Regions from separate parts of the Homo sapiens genome. Here region 1 is linked to region 2. The links come from fine-mapping of genetic effects on gene expression. Tissue or cell type: pancreas. Region 2 holds a variant in brackets; the other region holds the start of a gene. All regions are shown on one strand. Distances are from middle to middle.

Evidence for each region. PIP is the estimated chance that this variant, and not a neighbour inherited with it, causes the effect.
Region 1: it holds the start of FCHO2, and the variant in region 2 is fine-mapped to the expression of FCHO2 in pancreas (GTEx, PIP 0.95).

What each region holds. Positions count from the first base shown.
Region 1 is chr5:72,953,613-72,958,742 of GRCh38, forward strand. FCHO2 (FCH and mu domain containing endocytic adaptor 2) reads left to right here and starts at 2,429. Exons shown (of 26, transcript NM_138782.3): 1 at 2,429-2,517. The coding sequence starts at 2,485. FCHO2-DT (FCHO2 divergent transcript) reads right to left here and starts at 2,272. Exons shown (of 2, transcript NR_186392.1): 1 at 1,402-2,272. RefSeq lists a silencer at 2,322-3,021.
Region 2 is chr5:72,849,741-72,854,958 of GRCh38, forward strand. TNPO1 (transportin 1) reads left to right here. Exons shown (of 25, transcript NM_002270.4): 3 at 1,504-1,579. Among named protein-coding and RNA genes, the nearest start is that of MIR4804, 26 kb to the right of the region's middle. The variant C/G (reference allele first, on the strand shown) is at 2,276.

The sequences.
Region 1 (5,130 bases), 100 kb after region 2:
GGCAGTGACTTGTACACTGTTGTTATCTATGTTGGTTTTTAATAATTTCAAAATGAAATACATTTTGATAAGCAAAGTCTAAGAGAGTGTGGCACAAACACTTTAACGCATATAAGCTCGGTGGCTCATGCCTGTAACCCCACCCAGCACTACCCACTCAGGAGCTTATCTATGCTCTGCCAGAATGTATGTTCATCCCTGGAAACCTCACTTGAGAGTGCAGAAGGAGGCTGATACCATCCACGCTCTTCCTATACTACACAGTCTTGTCTGAAATTTAGTCACCTTAATCACTGTTTACTATAAAGTTCCACAACTTAAACATCAGGCAATTACAGGATATGGTGTTTCGGCCCTAATGAACCTTGCAAATACCTGAAATACTCAGAATACTTATTTTCATTCCAGATCTACTCCTAAATTTAAGGGGAGCAGAAGAATGCGAATGAAGGCCAGTAACTATTGTGAATACTATACTAAATTGTCTGTAGGTAATAGCCACACATTGGAACACTAACAAAAGGAAAATGTATGCTTGATACTACTGAGAAACAATACTTTGTCATGCAGGAATCTATAGCATTCAAGCTGAGATGAAGGATTTGACAAGTTAATTTGTCTTCTCTCTTACCTAAGCATTTCTGCTGCTCAAATTCTGACTCCAAAGCAGTCTCTGAAATGGGCAGCCATGCTATGTACAAATTTTCACTGCTTTTGGAGTTCACCGTTTGTTTTGAGGACAGAAGACAAAAGATAGGAAGAAGAGTTTTCCTGGGGCCTGAATAGTGTTCTTCACTGGGAGAGGGAATTTATGGTTATGAGCCAGTGTTCAGTATCAGATCACAAGCGGCAGGGGCACCTATTTTTTTTTAAATTAATGTGTGTGTGTGATATGTAAGTTCCTTTAAAGCATGGAGTCCAGGATAGAAGTCTCTCTTGCCCAGGTCTAAGGGTGCGGGGGGAAGGGGGGGGGCGCGGCGGTGGGAGGGAGTACTTTAGTGATACTAGGAATTTAATGCCAAATGTATTTGCTGTGTGACCTAGATGGCTGAATTTTTTAAAAAGTTCTTCAGCATCGAGAAAAATCCAGTTAGACCGATAGCTTAGAGAGCTGTAGCTTATTTCTAAATTTGACTTTCCCTAAAACTAAGTGTAAATGTCAGTGATATGAGGACTTTTTAAAGAAACAAAATAAAGAAACAAGATACACAAAAATAGAGCAACTATGGCCAATCTTGTTTCATCCCTTTTCATCTATGACCTTACTCATACCCCTATCCATAATAAATGACTTTCAGCAAATCCTAGATGTTCTGCATCCTATATCTTTCTAACAGATATTCTTAAAAAGTATGACCACAATACCATTATCCAATTATTCCTTGTTCAACAAGCACTTACAATTTCATCCATGTGAAAGGCACCTCATGATTTTTACTTGAGGATGAAGATAATTTCTCATGAATTCTCATTGTTTTAAGTCACCTGAAGAGGTGTGATATGCTACAATAAATCTATTTGTAGGGCTTGGCTTCAAGAACTGAAGATTCTGGACCTAGCTGATCTGGTGACAGTGAACTTGAGACCTCTAATAGCGTTTAACTATTTTTTTTTAACTTTTGGAAAGCAAGGTGTAGGAAGGGGATTTAGTTTTTCCATTAGGTCGTGGCATGTTAAGACTTGTTTCTTTTTCCAAAATGTTCAAGTTGCTGAAGAGAACTATGGACTATGGGTCAGGAAGTCCGTCGGTTTCGGGTCACATTCCGCTCCCGCAGGCCTGCGGGCCGCCCCAGCTGGTTTGTTCCCGGCGTGTTAGAGGTCAGAGGCCGAGGCCGCACTCAGTGCCTGGGTCTCGCGCAGCTCCAGGGCTCTCAGGCGACACTGGGCGTTTCCTTTCCGGCTTCGGAAAGTTTTGTTTTGGTTCAAGGAAAGGCGCCCTGTTGACCAAAGGCTTCTCAGTCTCCTCCGGGTGGCCAGCGGCCAAGTTTCCTCCAGCCCAGCGAGTCCAGACTATAGTCCGTTCGAGATCCTCGAAGGCCGGGGAAGCGAGTCTTGTGAGGAGAGAAAGCGAGTGGGCAGCCAGCCTGCCGACTCCACTGCCGCTGGCTGGCCCTTCTCTTCCCTCTGTCCCTGGGCCAGTGCCCGTCGCACCACAAACAGTGCGAGCAGTCTCCCCGGTGACTCCTCAAGGACCCAGTTCTCCACCATTCCTAAGAGAACACTCAACCCAGCCGCGCCCGGGATGCAGAGAGATCTACCAACACCCGAGAATGGGGACAGGGCGCATGCGCACACCGTGGCCGTGGCGTCTAAGTGCTCGCCCAGCTGCGGCAGCCGCTAGGTGGCGCATGCGCCCTGGAAGGTGCGGGCCGGTCTCTGGGAAGAAGGCGGCGGCGGCGAAAGGCGGGGGTGCTGTGGGGGCCGGGCCGTGTTTACACAGCGGCGGGCGGGCGCGGACGCGGAACCCGGCGCGGCGGCGGCACGATGGTCATGGCGTATTTCGTCGAGAATTTTTGGGTAAGCTTAGGATGTTGGAAGTCGTGTGTTTCGAAGTCCAAGGCTTTTGGCGCCTGAGCTTGGCCTGCGTGCGCTTCGGGCGGCGGCGGCGGCCCCTCCGGCAGGGCGAGCGTCCTCCTGCCGCGTCCCGCCTGGGTGAGGTCCGGCGGGCGACCGGTCGCCAGCCTATAGGGACTCCCGGGCTCGCAGCCCTATGGGGACGGGGGCTGTCACCGCGGCCCGGGGGCCCGCAGCGGGGCCGCCGGCCACCGGGGCTGGGACAAAGCGCCGGATGGGGCGGGAGACGGGACCCAGCCCCACCGGAGGCTCCCGGTGCCGCGCTCCGCGCGGGGCGTGCGCGGCAGCTCGGACGCGAAGGACGGGCCCGCGGCACAGCCGCCTCCCGCTGCGCGCTGGCTGGGAGCGCCGGGCGGTGGGGTTTTGCCTCCTGCCCTCACCGCGGGCCCCCCATCTGAGCGATCCCTTTTACCTCTGACGGTTTCCACACCAAATCCAGTGCGGGGTTGGGCTGGACTAGCACTTCCTCTCAGCCTCGCAGCTCGGCTCGTGGGTTTGCGCCCAGGACTTTGCCTCTGGGCCTGTTCACAAAGCGTTTAAAAGTTGGATTTAATGTAACTGGACTCCTTGGGCTTAAATGCATGGAGACCTCCCCCTACTCTGTGCTCCTTCCCCTTCCTCATTCTTTCCACCCCTTGTCTTAGCTCAGTATTAGATTCTTCTTTGAGAATTTCTCCGGCTCCCGGTGGAGTATTTTTCTGCAGTTATTGTTTTTTTTTTTGTAATGGGAAGTACAGTTCAGCCATGTACAGGAAAGGAACGTGTTTACTCAGGTATCTTTCGTGAATCCCATTTTATGCCCTGACAGTTGCAAGTACTGCAGGTCCATTTTCGTTGAGATTTAGACATATTTAAAGGGGTAATCTTTTAGCTAGTAAGGAATGTATGTTAAATTCTTAATTCTAAGTGCCTCAAGCATGGTCTTGGTTAGTAATCAGATCAGTTCATAGTTATTTATTTGTCTTGAATGTACCTTGTTTTCCACAAAGAACGTATATACTAGACCTTAGGTGTTTTGTTTTTTAAACAGCTTTATTGAGTTCACATTTCCGTACCAATACACTCATTTAAAGTGTAGTACAATTCAGAGGTTTTTTCATATGTTCATAGAGTTGTGTAAACATCACCATATCAGTTTTACAACAATTTCGTTATCCCAGAAAGAATCCCTAGACCCATTAGCAGTCACTCCCCATTTTCCCCCTGCCCCAGGCCTAGGCAACTAATGTATTTTCTGCCTCTCTGCATTTGTCTAGTCTGGACATATCCTATAAATGGGGCCATGGTGACCAGTTTCTTTCACTTAGCATAATGTTCTCAAAGTTTATCCATGATGTAGCATGTATCACTACTAATTCCTTTTTATGGTCAAATAATATTCCATTCCACATTTTATTAATATTTATCCAATCAGTGATGGACATCTGGTTGTTCCCACTTTTGGGTTATGAATAATGCTGCATGAACATTTTTGTACAAGTTTTTGTGTGAACATATGTTTTCATTTCTTTTGGGAATGGGATTCCTGGGTCAAATCGTAGCTCTATGTTTAACATTTTGAGGAACTGCCATACTATTCTGAAGTGGTTGTAGCATTTTACAATCCCACCAGCAATATCTGAGGGTTCCTCTCCACATGCTCACGAACACTTATTTGTCCTTTTTATTATAATATAGTGAGTGAACGTGAAGTAGTATTAATATTTTATTGTGGTTCGATTTGCGTTTCTTTGATGCTTAACATCACAGTTAATGTGCTTATTGCCTATTTTTATATTTTCTTTGGAGAAATGTCTATTTAGATTAATTGCCCATTTAAAAATTGGGTTGTCTTTTTTTATAATTGAGTTGTAAGAGTTTTTTTTTTTTTAATATTCTGGATACACACCTTATCTGATACATAATGTGCAAACATTTTCTCCCATTCTGTGGCCTGCCTTTTCATTTTCTTGATGCTGCTCTTTGAAGTAACTCATAAGTTTTTATTTCTCGTGAAGTCTTGGTGAAGTCCATCTTATCTATTTTTTTCTATTACTTGTGCTTTTATTGCATCTAACCCAAAAATTATTTGCCTAACCCAAAAATTACGCCTTTTTTCTTGTTTTCTTGTAAGGGTTTTATAGTTTTACTTCTTCTGTTTAGTTCTATGATCCATTTGAAGTTAATTTTTGTGTATGGTGCAAGGGAAAGGTATAACTTCATTCTTTTGCAATTGTGTATCCAGTTGTCCCAGTACCATTTGTTGAAAAGGTTCATCTTTCCCCGTTGAATTGTGGTACCATTGTCAAATATCAATCGACCAGAAATGTATGGATTCATTTCTGTATTTTCAATTCTATTCCATTGTCTTCCCTTACGACAGCCAGTAACACACAGTTTGGATTGCTGTTGTTTGGATTACAAATTTGTTTTGTATAGCAAATTTGGAATCAGGAAGTATGAGTCCTCTAGCTTTTTCCTTCTTTTTCAGGATTATTTTGACTGCCCTGGGTTCCTTGCATTTCCAGATGAATTTTAGGATTAGCCTGTCAATTTTAGGCATTAGGTTTTACAATG
Region 2 (5,218 bases):
TTTGGAATGTATTGCCGTTTGTATCTTGTAAACAGTGCTATGGCTCAGTCTTAATTTGTGTTGTCATAGTTCTAGGGATGATAGAAGTTGATAGTTGATTAATTGCAGGTATTATATGATACAGTTACTAGTTTCTTAAATTAGCTAAGCCCAATCCTGCATTGTAGTTATTCTGTGGCACCATATATCATAATTTCTTGTTTTAGTCTACATTTATTAGGTACCTCATAAATGCTTAGTACCGTGCTTGGGCAAGTAGTCAATTTACAGTTTATTCTGTGTGCCTGGAACTTAGTATGTCCTCTGAGAAAGAACAACTTTCTGTTGCTGTGAGAGGAAAACTACTTTAGCTAAGAATACATACTGCTGTTTCAGAGTGCCTTATTTTGTTTCTCCTAAGAAGATAATATATTTAATTATTATTTTGTATAGGCTTTTGAGTACTTTTTGAAAGACCGCTATAATAGGATAAAGAGATGTAGCTTAAGTTGTAAAAAGGTAAACTTTATCAGGAAATAGTTTTGAAAAATTCATTGGCATATCAGCTTGTTGTTAATCTGGGCCATTCACTAAAACAAGAATTACTGTCTTGGTTGGAGAAAGTAGTTACACCTTGCAGTTTTACTAGAGACTATGTTGTTGGTTCGTTTACTTTCTGACCCATAAACATTGAGGGTATTCAAATATGTAATAAATAGCTAATAAAGTGTTACTGGAGTTTGATTCATGGATTTAATCAGAAATTTAGATTTGTTGGGTGACAAAACATTTTAATCTTTCTGTGTAGTAAAACACAATTGGGAAGCATGTTAGTTAGGGGTTGGGAGTCAGGGCTTGAAGAAAGATGTAATAGAGCATTTTGTCACAGCTGCCTCCCGACAGCGATGAAATACCTGCAAATTGGTATCACTAAAAATGTTGCATCTTGGGGATGAGGGGAAGAATTGTACAGCTGTAGTGCAATAATCTCATAATGCTGACTTTATAATAAGATATATAGCCTTGTGCATAAATGGCACTTTATCTTTTTGGATTCTAAAGAACAAATGAGTCTGAGAAGTATCTTTTTTTTAAAAGTTATTCTATAAAGTTAATTTCTCTAAATGATCTTCAACTCTGAAAGACTTGTTTTCATTTGGAATGCTTTTATTTTTGTCATTTTATGCTTAAATACCTTTCTATTTAGAATGGTTTAAAGTTGAAATCCAAGAATTTTTTTGAATATTTTTTGCTATATTGAGCATGCTGAAGCTGGAACTTTCTTATGTTGTATTGCATGTAATTGATACATTTCAGCCATAAAGCACCTAAGAGGTTTAGCAAGCACTAGCGTGTTTTTGAAATAGATGTTGATAGATTTAGTAAGATATCCTTATTCTTAGTTTAAAAAAAAAACGCAGGACTGAAAATACCACCAAAGAGATCCTTGATTTTTAGATTTAAAATGCTTAATTTCTTCCTGAGATTACACAGAGAAGTTTCCTTAACTACTGTTTGTTCTAGAAACTGGAACAACTTAATCAGTATCCAGACTTTAACAACTACTTGATTTTTGTTCTTACAAAATTAAAATCTGAAGGTAAGTAGGATTTGTATTGATAACTATTTAAAGTTTCTTTAAGACCTGTTTAAATGTACTGAGAATTATTCATTTCAAAGGATTTCATTTTGTAGTAACCTTGTGCTTTATAGATGTGGGATAAACAGTCTTAGTTAATACCACTCAGTATTTACATGTTTAATAAGAATTCCTTTTTTTTAATGTATATACAGACAGAGTCTCACTCTATCACCCAGGCTGGAGTGCAGTGGTGCGATCTTGGCTCACTACAATATCTGCCTCCCGGGTTCAAGCAATGCTCATGCCAAACCTCCCTAGTAGCCGGGATTACAGGCATGCGCCATCACATCCAGCTAATTTTTTTGTATTTTTAGTAGAGACAGAGTTTTGCCTTGTTGGCCAGGCTAACCTTGAACTCCTGGCCTCTGGGGATTCGCCTGCCGCAGTCTCCCAAAGTGCTCGGATTGCAGGTGTGAGCCACTGTGCCCAGCCAGCATTCATTTTTAATAGGGTGTTTGTATAATAAGTTACTTAATTCTTTGCAGATGAAAAACTTGTTGCAAAGTCTACTTTAATGTTTTGCTTTCATGCATATAGATGGATATAACAAAGGTTGTAATACAAAGATTGAATGTAGGTTTTAATAACTGAATATGTGTGTTTTTTGTAGAAAAAAATTGAAAGGTCATATAATCAAAATGAAAAATTATTTAT[C/G]CCATCTTCCAGAGATGATTATTGTTGATCTCTTCAATTATATCCTTCTCTGCTCTTATATGGTCACATACTATTTTAAAATTATTTAGCAAAAAGTGGGATCATTCTATTGATAAGTAGACTTTTGTAACTTTTTAAAAAACTTCTAAAAGTCTACATGAAACTTTTTCATGACTCTTAATTTTAAATTTAAATGATTTCTATGACAGTTTAAAGCCTGAGTAGTCTGATTTTTAAATAACATGGTCATTTGATTATTTCTAATAATATGTAACGCATCCCACTAGACATTATTTCATAAATATTTATGGAGCGCCATCTCTGCCATGCAATTTACAGGCTCAGGAGAGAAAGGTGAACAAAACAGACAAAAATCACTGCCCTCAAGGAGCTTACGTTGTAGTGAGAGTTGTTTCTCATAGCATTATTTGGGTATTCCCTCCCTGAAACATTGTGGACACATAGAAGTCAATTAAATATTTATTGCGCAACTGATTGGCCTCTAAATGAAAGCGCTGTACCCTATTCAGTGATTAGTGTTTTAGAAGCCATGGTGCAATTAATAAAATCACTGCACTTGGAATTGGGAAATAACAAGGTTTAGACAACCAGACCATCTGTAAAGTTTCAGCTCCAAATTCTGACAGGTTAATAGTGTTATTGTGTAGTAAAAACTCACTGATTTGTATTCAGATTTTCATAATTCTTGCACGGTGATTTCTTTTGAATTATTTTCAGTTGATTTTGTAGTTAATTTGGGGGATTTTAATTTGTGAATGAAGGACACAATAGAAAATTTAGAACTCTTAAGTCTAGGTTTTAAGAAACTAAGAATTATTTCAACAATTAATATTCCTAGTTTGATATTTGCGATACATTGCTTCTTAATATAGAAATTTTTCTGACAGTTTGTGATCAACCTGTTTGTTTCTTATACTAAGATATTTATAAATGGATTTTTTAAATCTAATTGTTTTATTTGAAATTTTTAAATTTATTTTCACTAAGCTGTCCACTCTCATGTTCTTATCCTACATTCCAAATATTAGGATTGTTACAATATTATACTCTTGAGTACAGCTTTCTTGGGATATAAGGATACTTCCTTCAGGCCAGGCAAGGTGGCTCTTTCTTGGGATATAAGGATACCTCAGGCCAGGCAAGGTGGCTCACGCCTGTAATCCCAGCACTTTGAGAGGCCAAAGCAGGAAGATTGCTTCAGGCAAGGAGTTCAAGATCAGCAACATAGTGAATGGTGAAACTCCATCTCTGTAAAAATTAGCTGGCATAGTGGCACACACCTGTGGTCCCGCTACTCAGGAGGCTGAGGTGGGAGGATCACCTGAGCTCAGGAGGTCAAGGCTACAGTGAGCTGTGATCGTGCCACTGCACTCCAGTGTACTTAAGTGCTTCAGAAGTACTTAAAAAAACACAAACACACAACTTGTTAAGTAGTGGCAAGAGGGTTTGGAAGTCATTGCTTCCACAAAGACATTAATTACAAAACCATAAAATGTTGGAAAGGATTTTATTCAGATTTTCTTGACCCTAAAATGTGTTTCTTATGTTCATTATGCAGTTTCTCTGAGGATGCAGTAGTTTTACGTTGGTGTAACACTTGATATTTCTTCTTGTGTTTATGCATTTTTTTTTTTCCCTGGGAAGATTGGGACACAAGTTTGCTGCATGTAGTTTTCCATTTTAAAAAAATCTTTGCATCATGGCTGTTCATATTAAAGCAGCAATACAAGTAACATCTTAAATGAAAATGCTTATGTAGTAATCTTATCACTGAATTGTAGAGTAAAATTTTTGATCTGTAAGAGATCTCAGATCAGCTGCTCTAATTATCTCACTTTACAAATGAACAAATTGAGGGTACACTGAAGTAGTCTTAATTTTTGTAAAACAAAGGAAATCGTTAGTCGTTGAATTTTTTAAATGGATTTTAAGAGAGTATATACTTTTAATATTGAATTGTTTCACCTCATGTTGTGGTTTATTAAAATTCTTCATCTTGTAACCTTTATGGTAAAAACAATATACTATATTTCTCGTAAACAAAGTCATGCCATTTAAAATAATTATATGGCTGAATTATTAACAGGTAATTTAAGGCAAGTTTATTGCTTAAAGAAGTTAAATATCTGGCTTCATTTATTTCATGGCAGTTTTTAACTTTTAAGAGAATTTAAAGGTATTTTTGTTTGTTTTGTTTTGGTTTGAGACGGAGTCTCGCAATGGGTTGTAATTGAAAATGGAAAGTAGTTTTTAAATGATGACATACAAGGTTTTATAGTGCTGTGATGACCTGAATGAAGTTTGTGTGCAGAGAAACTGCTCTTTTTGCCTCTACATGTTGCTTCACTCTTGAAGATTTCAGTGCCATTCAGAGTTTGGGAACATCATACTAACTAGAACAAGCTTGGGATATATTATTTTTTAATAAGACGGGTAAAACAATGGTTTTACAATAACATTCTGTTCAACATGCCAGCTCTTCATCTTATAGCCCTTTGAGTGGGGGTAATACTGAAGAATGATTCAAAGTCCTTAGTTTCTTCACTTGTGCAATGGGGTGAATAATACCTGCCTCATGAAGTTGTAAGGATTAAGTGCAGTGCCACTTGGAAAGCACTTAGCAATGTTTAATAAATCATAAGCATTTCGAAGATGTTAACTATTGCTAATATTGTTGGTGTTGATGCCAACTGGTAAAGCCGTCAGTTATGTTCTACTAGTATTAAGTAGCTTTTTGAAAATTTGTAAATACTATCTATGGATTAAACTTATTTTAAGAAAACTCTTTTTAAATGTTTTTGGAGGTATTTTTTTGCTTTTAAGTTCAGAGGCAAATGAAAAACATGATATAAATTAACAGCAATTATATTTGTTACATGAAGGTCTTATATATTCTTTGTCCACTTAATTTTTCAATATTAT